2 separate regions of the Homo sapiens genome follow, and region 1 is linked to region 2. Evidence: fine-mapped expression QTL. Tissue or cell type: whole blood. Region 2 holds a variant in brackets; the other region holds the start of a gene. All regions are shown on one strand. Distances are from middle to middle.

Region 1 (8,000 bases), 53 kb after region 2:
GCGCGTGGAAGAGCTTCCCCGAGCTCACTGGGGGCAGCAGGCCCCGCGTCCTGGTGGGGCGAGGGTCGTGAGGGCGGCGGCCGGCCCGGGAAAGGCGGCCCTAGAGGGCTCCGCGCCTGGGGCGGGGCAGGGGCCGCGGGGCGTACTGGAGGACCAGGGGGCGGCCGGGGCGGGGCCTGGGGAAGTAGGGGTCCGTCCTAGCGAGGGGATACGAGGGACCGTTTCTGCTGGGTCGGGGCCTGGGGAGGGAGGCCAGATCCCGGGGACCCGCGGTCCCCACCCTGGTCTCCGGCGACTGACCCGGGGCTCCCGCACCCGGCCTTTGCGCAGGGGTCGAGGTGGGCGCGGCGGCTTGCGGGTGTCGGCGCCGGGCCCGGCCTCAGGGAGCGGGAAGCGGTCGATGGACAAGTCGGTGCCGTCGGCGAAGACCCTCGGGGCCGGAGTCTCGCGGCGTGGGATCCGGTGCTCACTGAGGACCTGCGGGGCGCGTCGGTCACCCCCACACCCCAGCCCCGGCCGCCCCACCGGGGACCCGCACCGACCTCGCCCTTGGGGCTCAGGAGCAGCGTCGCGCAGCCGCGGATGGAGAGGAGGGGAACGGGCTCCCGGCTCGAGGACGCGCGCAGCGGCTTCTTGGCGCTGCGGGTCGCCTCGCCCCAGACCTGGAGGGGCGTGGAGCGGCGGGTGAGGGGCGGCCGGGCCGGGCCGTCGGGGCCGGGCTCCCGGGCCGGGGCGCACCGTGACGTGGTGCCGCGGGGCCAGCAGCGTGCCCGGCGGGAAGCGGTACAGGCGCTCCGGGAAGCCGCGCACCAGCTGCTTCAGCACCATGCCGCTCAGGTCGGCCGTGCTCTCCTGCGACGGGTTGAAGATGCGGACGAACTTCTCCCGGCAGCTCACAGCCACGATCTTCAGGCCTGTCGGGCTGGGAAGAGAGGAGACGCTGTGAGGAGATGCGGCCGGTCCACCCGCACAGCTGCGCGCCCCGCCCGGAAACCAGCTCCAGTCCGGCGCCGGAGGCTTGGGTCACTCGCCCCTTACCTCTGCAGGAGTTCCGGGCTCCAGTGGTCCGGGTCTGTGCAGGGCTGGGGCGACAGGACCGGCTCGCCGTGCCTGGGTGAGTGGGTTTTCTGGAGATCTAGAGAGAGCAGCGCTTTTGGGGAGGGGACCCTCGAATGGAGTCCCCACCGGATGTTCCCCGTGAGGTCAGAACAGGCCTGCAACGCCTGGCGGGGCAGGGAGCAGGGCCAGGGTCAGATGGGGCAGGAAAGGTGGCTGGACCTTGGGGGCTGGAGGGCCACCTCCAGGGCTCTGAGTGAGATCACAGCTCTGAGGGGGTGGAGGGTGGGTGAAGGGTAACCAGGGGAGACCCGCCCCACTGCACCTTCTGAGTCCCTGCTGTAGCTGCCGGCCTGCACCAGCGCTTGCTCGGAGGAAGCGCGGTGGTCCCGGGGCGGGTGCCCTATCACCTGCACGAAGGAAGGCAGGCCCGGCCGGCAGCTGCTGGAGTCGGAGTCAGCGCCCCCTGAGCTGCTGGTGTTCAGACAGGGCAGGGAGCCCCACTCCACGGTCTTGTGATGCCGCTCGGAATGCTTTCCAGAGGACTCTGGGCTCCCTGTGTCCAGCTGTGGCCAGGGCCGGGGCTGCCTGTGGACCACGCTCTGCTTGATGGCCACTCCAGCTCCAGACCCCAGCCCTGCCCCCGTCCAGCCTCACAAGGCAGTGCAGCAGGGAGCCCCTCTTGCCTCCCAGTACCCAGGCTCAGTTCATGGCAGGACAGTGATGGCTGCCTCAACCCCAACGCATTCTACAGATCAGAGAACGCGCATTGGAAGGTTTAAGAGACTTATCCAGGGACACTAAATGGTCCTTTAGTGTCCTGCGTCTTCACTTGCCAAGGTGAGCCCTCCCTTCTGGCCCCTGGGGAGTCCCTGCTCTGTGCAGTTACTTTTGCTTTGAGCTGGGCTCCATGTTGGTGAAGAGGTTGGGATACCGGCGGGCAACGCTGTTCCAATCCACGTCCTCCAGCCGAAAGCCCTGGCCAGGAAGCAAGAGGCACATGGTCCTCCCCTCCCGCAGGGCTCCAGATACCAGACCACACACGTGGGAGGCCTAGCTCACCTCCCCGGTGGGGGCCTGAATGTTTTCAGAGAGGTCGCTTGGGTCCATCAGAGTCTCTGCCGTCACTACCTGCAAGAGGGGACCGGAAGCCAGTGGGCAGGGGCTGGGTGCTCCCCTACAGCACCTCTCCTCTTTGACCTCACCTGTGCTTTGAGGCCTCCTGATTCCTCCCTGCTGGAGCCCAGAGTTCCAGAGGCACCTGAGCAGGGCAGGCTTCCAGGCAGGCCAGGGCGCCCCAGCAGAGGCACCCGACGAGATGGGGAGGGCTGGGGAGGGCAGCCTGGGGCAGGAGGGCTTGGGGGACAGGCTCACCTCCACACTGCCAGTCTGGGATCGTAGCATGCGGCCCACCCACGAGGAGCGGGCCAGCTGCAGGAGGCAGGACTTCTGCAAGTTCTGCAGCTCGGCCTCCATCTCCTGGAGCGTGCGGGTGGTCTGCAGCAGCCGCTCCTCCAGGTGCTCCTTCTCCTGCTCCGAGAGGGCCTGTGGTTGGTGGTGGGGGGGTGTCTTCTGCAGAAGGCCCCCAGGCCAGCCCCAGCCTGGCTCCCCAACACCAGGACCCTGCCCACTCCCTGTGCCCCTGCCTCACCCACTGGGCTCGCTCCTTCTGTTCCTTCAACTCCTGGATCAGCTTCTGGACCTGGTTCTGCAGGAGTTTCTCCTGACTGTGGGAGCTCCTGGAGGAGGGGTGACCTCAGCAGCCCCCACCCTGCTCAGGCAGGGGTTCCTAATGTCAGGTCAGTGGCGAAGGAGGGGAGAAGGAGGGGCTCCACTGCCACCTTGGCCCCAAGGGCACACAGTACAGCCCCGCTGGGGCTGGCCAGCCTCCGGCTGGTCTGGACAAGGGTCTAGCACCCATCCACATGCGCAGGGTTAGGGTGGAGGCTATAGCGTGTTAACTTAGGATCAGGGTGGAGGGTCAGCGCGGGCAAGGATGAGGGTAAGGATCTGCCTCAGCGGTTGGGGTTGGGGTCAGACAGAAACCAGGAGTCCGGGCGAGGACAGGGCGGGGTTGGGTTGGGCTGGGGACTGTGCTGCAGACCTCTTGGGCGGAAGCCCCGCCACCTCTTCCAGGATGTGGCAGAGCCGGGCGTCCTCGCCATTCTGGATGGCCCACCGCAAGGCCTGGATCTCCAGTTCTCGCTGTCTCCACAGCAGCCGCAGTGTGCGAGGGTCCAGGGACTCAAGAGCCAACCTGCAGCGGCAGCAGACCCTGCTGCTTACTCAGGCCGGCCCCTGGCCACCTGGCCCAGGAGGCTCACCAGTCCTCCCTCTCCTCCTTACTGCGGGTCGGCAGAGCAGACCACCGGTGCGGGGTGGGGCGTGGTGTCTGGCAGGCACGTGGGAGTCTCGGGGGCTGCAGGTGCGCCTGCTGGAGGTCCCAGGTGACCACTGACCGACTCTTGCTCTGTGGGGGACAGGAGAGCCTCTTCCTCGGTTTCTTCAACCTCCTGGCCAGACTTGGGGGCCATTCTCAATGTTCTTCGGGAGCTGGGAGGGGTGGGGGGCCCGTCTGCCGTGTGCGCCTCGTGTGGCCACACAGGTTGGAGCAGCCCAGGCGTCACCACTTACTCACAGAGCGTTGCTCTCTGAAGGGACCCACATGTGGGTGTCCACACCCGTGTGTTTCTGACCAGGCTGGCGCAGCAGGTCACCACCCGACATGTCCCTGGCGTGTACCCCTGCCACCCAGGTGCTGGCCCTTTGCCTGTGATGTGGTGTCCCTCTTTCTCTCTCTTGTCCCCCCAGCTCAGGGCCCTACCCCCAGCACTCACCTGAGGCCCGACCTCCAAGCAGGCCTGGGAGGGAAGGGCTGTATACCGTTGCCATGGATACCAGCACCCAGAAGGGGTGGGGCTGTTTGTTACCAGGAGCCTCCAGGGAGACCCCAGACCAGGCCCCTAGGTGAGTTCTGGGCCAGCCCAGCCTGGAGGAGGTGTGAGAGGCTGAGCCACTGCTCAGCTTAGCGGGGGGACCACTTAGTGACCAACACCCTGAGGGAGGCCCCAGCATCCCCTACCTAGCCTGGCAGCAGCAGCGGGATAAATAGGGGGGCACTGCTGCCTGTGAGCCAGCCCAGCATAGCCATGGGTGTGTGGGGGAAGCAGACAGGTAACAGTGACAAGCTGGGGACTGTGCTGAACGCTAACTGGCAATAGTACACTCCTGCCCACAGCCTGTTTTTAAATTAATAATTAATTCTTTAGAGACAGGGTCTTGCTCCGCTGTCCAGGCTGGAATGCTTCGGTGTGATGACAGCGCACGTTAACCTCGAATTCCTGGGCTCAGGTGATCCTCCCACTTCCGCCTCCTGACTTGCTGAAACTACAGGCACCCGCCTCCACCGCCAGGCCCAGCCCACAGCTCCTTTGACCTCAGTGACAGGCACTCACCTACCTGACCCCCAAACTGAAGCCTCACTTTTCCCAGCCGTGTCCACACCCTCTGGGCTACCCCATTACCATGACAAGTATTCCCTCTGCTCCAGGAGAAAAGCCAGGTCCCAGACCTGACCCATTAAAACCCAATCATTCCAGCTTTCACCCTTCATCTCTGCAACTTTCGGCTATGTAAGGGCTCCCTGGGGGAGCACAGGAGACAGGCGGGCAGGAGGCCCACGCCCACAACTCTTTCTGAGCTGGGCAGAACAATCAATGGCCCACACAGCTGACCGCGAGGCTGCGGGGCCCTGGGCGGGACAGTAGGGTAGGGGGTGAAGGAGCGGCTTCCAGCCAGCTTCACTGTGTGCATGGCCTGGCACTGGGTCCAAAAGGGGCAGGAAGGTGTCGGAGAAGAGCCTCAGCTAGAGTCCGGGCCTTCTGAGCGGGCACCTCCCGCACCAGGACTCTGCGCCCGCCAGCTCCGCAGGGCTCCACCTCCCTCGCCGGGACTGGTGACCCTGCGACCCCGCGACCCCTGCGCGTCCAGACTACTGCAGCTGCGGTAGGCCCCAAAGGCTGGCCCGGGAAGCGAGGGGAGGGGCTGGCCCCGCTGCCCCTGGACGCAGGCGGGGGTTGCGGGATCTCAAGCCAGAGACCCTTCCTGGGCGGGAACCCGCCACACTAGAAGGCTGCTGAGGAAGTCGGCCCAGGAGCGGGGCCAGACACCTACCCCGACGCCTGCCCGCGGGCCGCAGCCACCGCATTTCCGCGTTTTTCGCGGTAGGCGGGAGGTGGGGGCGGGGACTGCGGCTCGGCGCCCCCCTCCGACCCGCCCACACCTGTAGTCTCGGGGGGGGCGGGGCGCGGCGACGAGCCAATGGGTCGGGGAGGGGCGTGACAGAGGCAGCCAATGGGCGCGGGGAGGGGGCGGAACGCCCGCGCTGAGCAGCCAATAGGGGTGCTAGGGGCGGGGCGTGCGGACCGCGGGCCAATGGGGGCGCGGGGCCCGGGTGCGCCGCGGCGCTGGGGGCGGCAGGTTGCGGCGGCGCCGGAGCGGGTCTCCAGGCTGGCGAGCGCCCAGGTGAGCCGCGCCGGGTCCCCGGTACTTGGGAGCGCGGGGCGCGCCTCGAGCCGGCCGGACGCCGACTCCAACTGGGGAGAGTTTTCCGCGATGCCCGGACGGAGAGCGGGGGCGGCGCCGCACCTGCGCCCGCCCTGCGGAACGGGGACGCCCTGGCTCCCGCCAGGCTGGGGTCGCGGCGCGGGCTTCGGTGCCCGCGGCGGGGACCGGGACTTTCGGGGCGAGCGCAGCGATTAGGCGGCAGCGGCGGGGCTCCCCGGGCTGGCGGGGGCTGCTCAGACCCGGAGTCTGCTCCATCTGCAGGGTCGAGGTCTGGGTTGCGACCCCGAGCGCCTCTGCGGCCTGAGCAGGTCGGGGTGGGGCGTTCCCATGCCGGCGGCCGCGGGGCCTGGCGTGCGGGCGCCTCCGCGCCGCCCGGGGAGGGGGCAGTGTCCTCCGAGCCAGGTGAGGCGAGTAGGAAATGCTGGATCTGGTTAATGATTCGCCTTGTTCCGGGAGTGCGAGCGTGGCAAGAGGAAGCTGGTGAAGTGGGGGAGGATGCGTGCTCCGGAGGGCCGCCACCCCAGGAATGTGTGGCTGGCGGGTGGGGCTGGCACAGGAGGGTGGGGCCCGTGCGGAGGGGCGGCAGCCCAGCCGTTTCTAGGGCAGGCCAAGAGGATGAGGAGAGGAGGACCAGCCTGCGATAGGAGTAGGCAGGTCCTGACCCGGTGCCTGCGCCCTCCCCACAGGACAGGCATGTTGTTGGGACTGGCGGCCATGGAGCTGAAGGTGTGGGTGGATGGCATCCAGCGTGTGGTCTGTGGGGTCTCAGAGCAGACCACCTGCCAGGAAGTGGTCATCGCACTAGCCCAAGCAATAGGTGAGTCCTCTCGGGGTCAGGCAGGCCGGGCAGGTAGAGCTGAAGTGGGACCTGGTGGTCCAGCTCCATGGTCTCCCCCAAGGAGAGTGGGGCTGGTTGCTGATCCTTTTTGTTCTTCCCAACTCTTCAAGCCAGGTGGACAGAGAGTCGGGGGGACATAGGCTGACCTTCTCCTCTTCTTCCCAGGCCAGACTGGCCGCTTTGTGCTTGTGCAGCGGCTTCGGGAGAAGGAGCGGCAGTTGCTGCCACAAGAGTGTCCAGTGGGCGCCCAGGCCACCTGCGGACAGTTTGCCAGCGATGTCCAGTTTGTCCTGAGGCGCACAGGGCCCAGCCTAGCTGGGAGGCCCTCCTCAGACAGCTGTCCACCCCCGGAACGCTGCCTAATTCGTGCCAGCCTCCCTGTAAAGCCACGGGCTGCGCTGGGCTGTGAGCCCCGCAAAACACTGACCCCCGAGCCAGCCCCCAGCCTCTCACGCCCTGGGCCTGCGGCCCCTGTGACACCCACACCAGGCTGCTGCACAGACCTGCGGGGCCTGGAGCTCAGGGTGCAGAGGAATGCTGAGGAGCTGGGCCATGAGGCCTTCTGGGAGCAAGAGCTGCGCCGGGAGCAGGCCCGGGAGCGAGAGGGACAGGCACGCCTGCAGGCACTAAGTGCGGCCACTGCTGAGCATGCCGCCCGGCTGCAGGCCCTGGACGCTCAGGCCCGTGCCCTGGAGGCTGAGCTGCAGCTGGCAGCGGAGGCCCCTGGGCCCCCCTCACCTATGGCATCTGCCACTGAGCGCCTGCACCAGGACCTGGCTGTTCAGGAGCGGCAGAGTGCGGAGGTGCAGGGCAGCCTGGCTCTGGTGAGCCGGGCCCTGGAGGCAGCAGAGCGAGCCTTGCAGGTGAGCCCGGGGACCTGATCCCCTGTCACTCCCCCACCCCTGATATGGGCAGATACGGGGATCACAGGGTCCCACTCGGGAGGCAGGTGAGCCCGGGGACCTGATCCCCTGTCACTCCCCCACCCCTGACGTGGGCAGATATGGGGGTCACAGGGTCTGACTCGGGAGGCAGGTGAGCCCGCGGACCTGATCCCCTGTCACTCCCCCACCCCTGACGTGGGCAGATACGGGGGTCACAGGGTCCCACTCGGGAGGCAGGTGAGCCCGGGGACCTGATCCCCTGTCACTCCCCAACCCCTGACGTGGGCAGATATGGGGGTCACAGGGCCCGACCAGGGAAAGTGCTCCCTCCGGAGCACAAGGGCTGTGGAGCCCAGTGGCTGTGCCTCCTAAGGATCTCATGTGTCCCCAGGCTCAGGCTCAGGAGCTGGAGGAGCTGAACCGAGAGCTCCGTCAGTGCAACCTGCAGCAGTTCATCCAGCAGACCGGGGCTGCGCTGCCACCGCCCCCACGGCCTGACAGGGGCCCTCCTGGCACTCAGGTCGGAGTGGTTCTGGGGGGAGGCTGGGAGGTGAGGACCTGGCCCAGCCCCACTCCAAGCTGACTTCCCAACCCACAGGGCCCTCTGCCTCCAGCCAGAGAGGAGTCCCTCCTGGGCGCTCCCTCTGAGTCCCATG
Region 2 (8,000 bases):
TCTTCAGCACCCTCCCCACCTTTGTCTCTGGAGCAGACATCAGGGGTGGGGCAGGGGGCAGGGACCAGCACCCACCCCCAGAAAGGCCACCATGGGCAGCAGAGCTTGGGTAATGCAGATGCCAGCCCATCTCCTGGCTATCACCACCCAGCCTCTGTGGGCACCTCCTCCTGCCCCACAGAGGGCGGGACAGCAGCAGCCCGGGAAGCCCCTGCCTCTCATTTGCTTGGGCAAGGACAGGGTAGGGTGGGGTGGTCTGTGAGCCTGGAGGCCCCAGCAGGGGAGCAAGGGGGTCTGTGGGCTTGACCTGTGTCTCACCCTCAGGACAGGCAGACTGTGCGGGCCAGGCAGGCTGCCCACAAAGCCAGAGACCTCCCAGGATGCCAGGATCCTGGACCCGGCCACAGTGTCCGAAGCAAGACAGAGCAGGGGGGCGGCCACTTGGGGTGTCAGCTTCCATGGCCCCCTTCTGGGGTTGGGGACTCTGCACCAGGCTACAGCACATCCCCTGCCCCACGGCACACTAGCCCAGAGGCTGGGCTACCAGGCAAGCTGGGTGGGTCAGCCTGGGATGGGCACAGCTGCTACACCCTGAAGCCTCCCCAGGCACAGGCCCTGAATATGGAAGGAGGTTCCTGAGGCCCTGAGAGCACAGCTCAGGTACCCGCCAGGGGCCTGGGGAAAGTGGTCAGGCAGAGACAGCCACCCCAAACCTTGGTTGGTGGATACATTCCCTGAGCACCTGCCAAGCACTGGCCTGGGGACTACAGCAGGGCAGGAACCTGGAGAGGAGGCTTGGATGGCCAGGAAGGCTCCCTGGAAGCAGCAGCACTGATGCCACAATGCGGGGAGGGGTGGGTGGGGTGGGGAGAGGGCTCTCATCCAGAAGCCCCAGAAAGTTGGCAGGATCCACTTGGGGAAATGATGCAACCCCAGCTGCCCTTCAGAAAGACGGCCAACAGGACCGCTTGAGAGGCTCCTGGTGCCCTGACACCCCCAGCTTCCTGAGTCTGTGTGCCTGGCACTCCTCTCCCCGGGGCTGCTTCAGAGGCGGCTGGTCCACTCTGCATGAGTGGAGGCAAGAGGCCCCTGGTACCAACTGGGAGGAAAGACGCAAGGCTGGGCTCGGGTCCACACGCCTGGGCGCCCGGCCTGCAAGGACAGTGGCAAAGGGTGGTGACATCCCACGGCCCCACATGGAGGAACTGAATCCAACCGACCCGAAGCACGTGAGCAAAACCGACCAGGGTGTGGTCACCCAAATTCTGACTCCAGAATCTAGTCATCAGGAGGCACTGTGGGCGGGAGGGCGGGTGGAAGGAGAGCCTCAGGGGGCTGCCCAGGGTGCACACGCTCCCCAAATCCAGCCTGACACTCCTGTGTCCTCTGCAGCCAGATGAAAGGTGGCCCCAGGGTGTCCTCCTCCTGGGAAAGCTTGGTGGGAGCTCAGGGTGGCCAGTGCTCCCGTGACCATCTGCAACTAGCGCTGCGGGAGTAGCCCCGTCCCTACCCCTCAGGCTTGGCCAGACCCTGTTGTATCCCAGAAAGGCCCTTCTGAATCTCTGTGGGTCACGGATCCCACTGAGGACCCCATGAAAATGCGGGAGTAAACGCCCTTCTCTGTGACTGGAGAAGTCCCTGGCTCCCTACACAGCCAAAGCTAAAAGCACATTCAGGAACCCACTACCACCAGCTGGCAGCCTGCTTTGGTTGAGGCAGGGATCTGAACAGAGGCCCTAACGGTCCCTTATCCGGAGACCAGACTTTCTCAACCTTACGGAGGGAGGTCTCCGCAGCACCCAAGGCCTGGGCCCCACCCTGGGGAGCCACATGGGAGGGGCCGTCTGGAGGCCAATTCAGGTCCTTATGTTCCGACGTGACGGGGGCGCGGGGCCACCCTCTAGGGAGACACGGGCCACGCTCAGGCGACGCGCAAAAGTTCCCGGTCCCTGGGACCCCCGCCCGCGCCCGCGTCGAGTCCCTCGAACCTGCTAGTTCTGGACACCCTGCTGCAGACTAAAGGGCTGGGAGGAAACCTCACAAAAACACGAAGGGGGTCTCCCCTGCCTCTCTGCCCCCGCCCGCGCCCGCTCCGCCCGGGACGCTCACCCGACGCCGCCGCCGCAGACCCAAGGCCAGAGCCGCTCCGCGTTCCTTCCGCCCAGGCGGGGGCGGGCGGAGCCTCCAGGCCGGGGCTGGCGGGGAGTCCACCCTGGGGGCCGCGCCCGCTAGTCGTCGCCCACTCGACCCTCTGGGCTCAGCCCCCGGGCCTCGTCCCAGCTACTACCCCAGCTTTCCCACTCCCCCCTGGGTCGGGGGTGAAGCCTGACGTCCGCATCCCGTTTCCCACTCTGGCCCCAACCAGCCTTTCCACCGTACAGCCGCCTTCCCCCAGACCATCCCTCCAGCTCTGGCAGCTCCCACCACCCTCGAGGGACCGGCCCCTGCCTCCTCCCACAAGCAGGCCGGATTCCAGGAATTGCCCAAACAATAAAATAAAGCAAACCTGAGACACCCCTTTTTGCTACCAGACTGGAGAAGGTGGAACAGGTTGACGATGATTTGTTGTAGCTGAGGCGAACGGGGCGAGGCTGTGAGGACGGGTTTTGGAGCGCCGCTCGGCCGTCCTCAAAACTTTGGACACACCCTCCGTTTCTGTCAGTCAAGAGTTCTTCATGCCTGAGCTCGGGAAGCATGTTCAAAATCTTTTTTTTTTTGTTTGGTCCCGCCTTTCTGGACCAAACCAATGGATATCTTAAATGTATTTCATTAATGCCTCATGTCTCTCTAAAACATGTAAAACCAAACTGCCCCAACCACCTTGGGCACATGTTCCCAGGATCCCCTGAGGGCTGTGTCACCGGCCGCGGTCACTCATATTCGATTCAGAATAAATCCCTTCAAATATTTTACATTTTAACTATTCTTATCGACAGTACATTTTTTAAAATAAGAATGGCCCTGAAAGATGTCCACCTCCTAATCTCCAAACCTGTGGTGTTACCTTAAGTGGCAAAAGGGACTTTGCAAATATTAAGAATATTGAGATGTGAAGGCTACCCTGGGGTGTCTGGGCGGCCGGCATATAATCATGAGAGTTCTTATGCAGAGACAGTAGGTTTTGAAGATGGAAGAAGGTGGCCTCTAGAAGTTGGAAGAGGAAAAGAAGCAGATTCTCCTTGGGAAACTCCAGAAGGAACTACCCTTGCCAACACCTTGATTTTAACCTCCTAAAACTCACTTCGGGCTTCTGAGCTCCAGGCCTATAAAACAGCCTGTGACAAATTCGTTATAGCAGGGATGAGAAAATAGCTCACTGCAGCCTCCTCTTCCAGGGCTCAAGTGCTCCTCCTCCCTCAGCGTCCCAAGTAGCTGGGACTACAAGCGTTCACTACCGCAACTGGCTAATTTTTTCTATCTTTTGTAGAGACGGGGGTCTCACTATTTTGGCCAAACTCAGTATGTTGGTCGCAAACTCCTGGGCTCAAGAGATCCGCCCGCCTCGGCCTCCCAAAGTGCTGGGATTACAGGCTGCAGCGCACCCAGCCTAATGTAACTTTTTTTTTTTTTTTTTTTTTTTGAGAAGGAGTTTCGCTCTTGTCAGCCGGCTGGAGTGCAGTGGCACGATCTCGGCTCACCGCAACCTCCGCCTCCTGAGTTCAAGCCATTCTCCTACCTCAACCTCCCAAGTAGCTGGGATTATAGGCGCCTGCCACCACGCCCGGCTAATTTTGTATTTTTAGTAGAGACGGGTTTTCACCATGTTGGCCAGGCTGTTCTCGAACTCCTGACCTCAGGTGATCCGCCTGCCTCTGACTGCCCGGCCCAGTGTAACTGTTAACGGCAACATCGTGTGCAGTCTCCGGCTTGCAT[T/C]CGGTTTAGTCAGCCAATCGCTAAGACGACACTTGAGACCGTTTTCAGATCTTTAGGCTTTCCACCATCCTAGAAGGGGGCCTGCCTGGTTCTAAGGCCCTTCTGAAACACTGCCAAACTGTCCTCGGGAAACGGTGCAGAAGTCCTCTGGTTTCCCCCAAGGCGCGTGGGCACCTTGGCTGGAACCTCGCCCAGTAACACGACGTGCCTGGGGCCCCTTCGTCATTTCCGCCAACCCCGGTGACAACCCTGACACCGGCCCCTAAGTGCCATTCCAGTTATGTTGCTCTCCTCCCCGCAGCCCCAGGCGGCAGCTTCGCGGCCCGGCGTCCGGTCCCCCGGTGGTCCCGGAGCGAAGCTCCGCAATGGAGAGCGGAGGACCCTCCCTCCCCGACCTCGCACGACCAAGACCGCCCACCTTTCCCCCAACGCCCGGCTGTGGGAGCCGTTCGAGTCTTCTCCGCCAGGGCGCTCCTTCCCGGGAGGCCGCTTCTTTGGGGGAATAAGGTCAAGGATTACGGGATTTGGGGAAGCAAGCTCGGCTGGGCCAGGATTGCTTGCGTAGCTCGCTGGAATCTAAGGCACTAGAGGGCTTGACGGCCACGTGAGGACGAACCACGCAGGCGCAGCCCCGCGCCCCGGGCAAGGACTTCCGGCAAGCCCCAAAGGGGAGCGTGCACCGCGATGACGTCCTCAAGGCGCGCCACGTCCGCCCGGCGGCGCAGCTGCCCAGCGCAACCTCGGCCCCGCCTCGATAGCCCCGGACCCCTGCCCCGCCCGACCCCGCCCCGCCACGGGAGCGCGCCACTCGCCCGCGCAGCAACGGCCTCAATAGCGCCAGGCCCGCGTCTACAAGAAGCCCGACCAAGGCCGGCGTGGGCGAGGCCTGGCTAGACGCTGACGCACCGCTGGAGCTACTGACCTCGGGACGACTGGCGGACGGTCGCGGGCCTGGAGACCCAGAGCGAGACGGCCTACTTCGTTCTCGAGCCAGCAGAACGGGTTGAACGTGTCGACAACCCCACCCGCCAGTCAGCGGCGCGGGCGTGTTCGAGCCGGCTCGTGGGCGTGGTCAGGTGCGTGGGCGGGGACTACTGGGCGGGGCTCGGCGCGGGGGCGGGGCCTGGCGGGAGTAGTCTCGGGGTCGGGGCGGGGCCCGGCGGGCGGGGCTCGGCTAAGCACAGTCTTGGCGCAGCGGCGGGGCCTGGTGGGGCGTGGCTCGGTGAGGGAGGTCTCGCTTGGGGGCGTGGTCTCCCCCAGTAGGCGGGGCTTGGTGCCGGGGGCGGGGTCTGGCGGGCGCGGGCGCGTGTGCGTGTTGTGGGCCTCGCACTGGCACGCAAGTCTCAGCAATTCCTGAGAATCCTCGGAGGAAGAGGCCGGGGCCCGGTGCGGCAGCGCCTTGGGGGCGGAATCGCAGGCGCGGGTCGGGCCTTGCTGGGGCGCGGGGCGCGGCCCCCGGAGAAAGCGGCCGCCTCGGGACAGGAGGGACCCGGGAGAAACCCCCCTGGGGCGGCTCCGCATGTCGGGGTCGCGACTCTAGGCGACCTTGGTAGAGGGGCTCGTTTGCGCCGAGCTCGCGACCCCCGAGGGAGCCACGGCCCCGTGAACCACGCTGCCCGTCCTGGCCACTGGCTGCCGCCTTTGTTTCGTGGGACCCCAGCCCGCAAGGCCTGCGGAGCCGCGGCCTCGTCCCGAGTGTTCTGAGCGCGGTCCGAGCTGCTCCTGCGTCCACTCTGCTGCCGACACCCGAGCGTCGCCTGGAGCCCTGGCACTGAGGGGCGCAGGCCGAGTTCCAGACCAGCCTGGGAAACGCAAAGCGACCCCACCTCCACAAAAGTGGGTTTTCTTTAAGTTTTTGACTAGTCCGCAATTCACAGAATTGACATTTTGGCAGATGAAGATTGCAAGTAAGGAAACTAACGGTATCTCAGATTTGTTCTTTAGCAATTTGCTAAACCTCTCCTCTGACTGCCTTTATTAGGTATTTGTTTTCGAGACAGGGTCTCACTCCACTGCTTAGGCTGTACTGCAGTGGCGCGATCCCAGCTCGCTGCAGCCTCCACCTCCCGGACTCCAGTGATCCTCCCGCCTCAGCCTCCCAAGTAGCTGGTACCACAGGCGCCAGCACGCCTGGCTAATTGTTGTATTTTATGTAGAGAAGAGGTCTCCCTGTGTTGCCCAGCCTGGTCTTGAATTGGGCTCAAGTGATCCTCCTGCTTCAGCCTCCCATATCGCTGGAATTACTGGCATAAGCCACTACACCCGGCCTGATCATCTTTAAAGAAGGTGGTTCTGGCCGGGCGTGGTGGCTCACACCTGTAACCCCAACACTTTGGGAGACCGAGAAGGGTGGATCACCTGAGGTCAGGAGTTCAAGACCAGCCTGGCCAACGTGGTGAAACCCCATCTCTACTAAAAATACAAAAATTAGCCAGGCATGGTGGTGGGCACCTGTAATTCCAGCTACTTGGGAGGCTGAGGCAGGAGAATCGCTTGAACACGGGAAGCAGAGGTTGCAGCGAGCCTAGACCACACCATTGCACTCCAGTTCGGGCAACAAGATGAAACTCTGGCTGGGCGCGGTGGCTCACACCTGTAATTCCAACACTTTGGGAGGCCAAGGCAGGCAGATCACCTGAGGTCAGGAGTTCAAGACCAGCCTGGCCAAGATGATGAAACCCCATCTCTACTAAAATTACAAAAACTTAGCCAGGCATGGTGGTGCATGCCTGTAATCCCAGCTACTCAGGAGGCTGAGGCAGGAGAACCACTTGAACCCAGGAGGCAGAGGTTGCAGTGAGCCAAGATCGTGCCACTGTACTCCAGCCTGGGCAACAAGAGCGAAACTCCATCTCAAAAAAGAAAAAAGAAACTCCGTCTCAAAAAGAAGGTGGTTCACACACACACACACACACCCCCAAGAAAGCTCAGGGCTGGAAGGCAGCCAACCTGGCTGTGACCCTCATCCTGCACACGTGAGCTTGGTGACCAGTAGCTGATTCTTTAACTCTCTAAGCTTTGGAGTCTGGATGTGAGGTTTAGAATTCATGACAAGAAGCTGGAAGGATGCCGCCAGTCTGACTCCTGGACTGGTTCTCTTGACATCTTTGCAAAAGCTGCTGAAATGTTCTGGTTTCATTTCATTCTTTTCTTTGCCATGATCTCTTAGATTTGTTCGTGGCAATTCTCATAAGAGTGAAGAAAATGTTTAAAATGGCTGTTGGGCTCCCTTTTGTGACACCTTGTGGGGAAGGTGCCCAGGTATGTATAGGTGCTGAGCGCACGGCCAGCATGGTGTCTGTGGCCGGGCCTCCCTCCTGGACAGTGCGGCCACAGCCCCTGAAAGGTATGTCTTCATTTTTATTTTATTTTATTGAGATGGAGTCTCGCTCTGTCGCCCAGGCTGGAGTGCAGTGGCGCGATCTCGGCTCACTGTAAGCTCCGCCTCCCAGGTTCAAGCCATTCTCCTGCCTCAGCCTCCCGAGTAGCTGGGACTACAGGCACCTGCCACCACGCCCGGCTAATTTTTTTTTTTTTTTTTTTTTTGTAATTTTAATAGAGACAGGGTTTCAGCGTGTTAGCCAGGATGGTCTCGAGCTCCTGACCTTGTGATTCGCCCGCCTCAACCTCCCAAAGTGCCTGGCCTTCATTTTTATTTTTGAACTTACCTGCCTCACCTCGTTATGTCTTTATCTTATTTTTAAACTTACTCAGTTCACCCACTGTGGAATTGGGAGTATATGGAAGTATTCCCACCCCCAGTTTTATATACCGCCCCAGAGCTGACCATTCTCGCTCATTTCCCCGGGTCCTGGCCGACTCGAGTGTGCCTTTCCTTCCGATCCTGCTCCACACAGATCTGAGGGATGCTGCCCTTTCCTTCTCCACCTGCCCCTCCCTCACATCCAGCCCCACCAGCCTACACGTTAGCTTAAATAGGGAGCTTTTACATTCCCCATGAAAGGGAATCCAGGGACAGGCTGAGGCAAGAGACCCCCAGTGTTCATGAGATGCCATCTAGAGAAAACACCGTGGTGCTGAAGGCCTAAGTCAGACCCCGGGGAGAGAGGCACCAGGGTGACTTTGGGTGGAGAGTCCTGTGCCTGTTCTACTTCTATAAATATACT

The links. PIP is the estimated chance that this variant, and not a neighbour inherited with it, causes the effect.
Region 1: LMNTD2-AS1 starts here. The variant in region 2 is fine-mapped to the expression of LMNTD2-AS1 in whole blood (TOPMed, PIP above 0.99).

The regions. Positions count from the first base shown.
Region 1 is chr11:555,454-563,453 of GRCh38, forward strand. LMNTD2-AS1 (LMNTD2 antisense RNA 1) reads left to right here and starts at 3,809. Exons shown (of 2, transcript NR_147607.1): 1 at 3,809-4,023; 2 at 4,326-4,653. It overlaps LMNTD2 (lamin tail domain containing 2), which reads right to left and starts at 5,285. Exons shown (of 14, transcript NM_173573.3): 1 at 5,230-5,285; 2 at 3,403-3,526; 3 at 3,161-3,313; 4 at 2,708-2,795; 5 at 2,431-2,586; 6 at 2,119-2,187; 7 at 1,946-2,034; 8 at 1,382-1,644; 9 at 1,039-1,135; 10 at 739-922; 11 at 543-662; 12 at 281-477; 13 at 1-50. The coding sequence starts at 5,263. It overlaps RASSF7 (Ras association domain family member 7), which reads left to right and starts at 5,517. Exons shown (of 6, transcript NM_003475.4): 1 at 5,517-6,024; 2 at 6,309-6,439; 3 at 6,626-7,323; 4 at 7,736-7,864; 5 at 7,943-8,000. The coding sequence starts at 6,316. RefSeq lists enhancers at 1,222-2,058, 6,320-6,895.
Region 2 is chr11:502,318-510,317 of GRCh38, forward strand. It overlaps RNH1 (ribonuclease/angiogenin inhibitor 1), which reads right to left and starts at 4,925. Exons shown (of 11, transcript NM_203387.3): 1 at 4,796-4,925; 2 at 2,507-2,679. It also overlaps a transcript of LRRC56 not described here. RefSeq lists an enhancer at 4,194-4,363 and a cis regulatory region at 4,279. The variant T/C (reference allele first, on the strand shown) is at 3,874.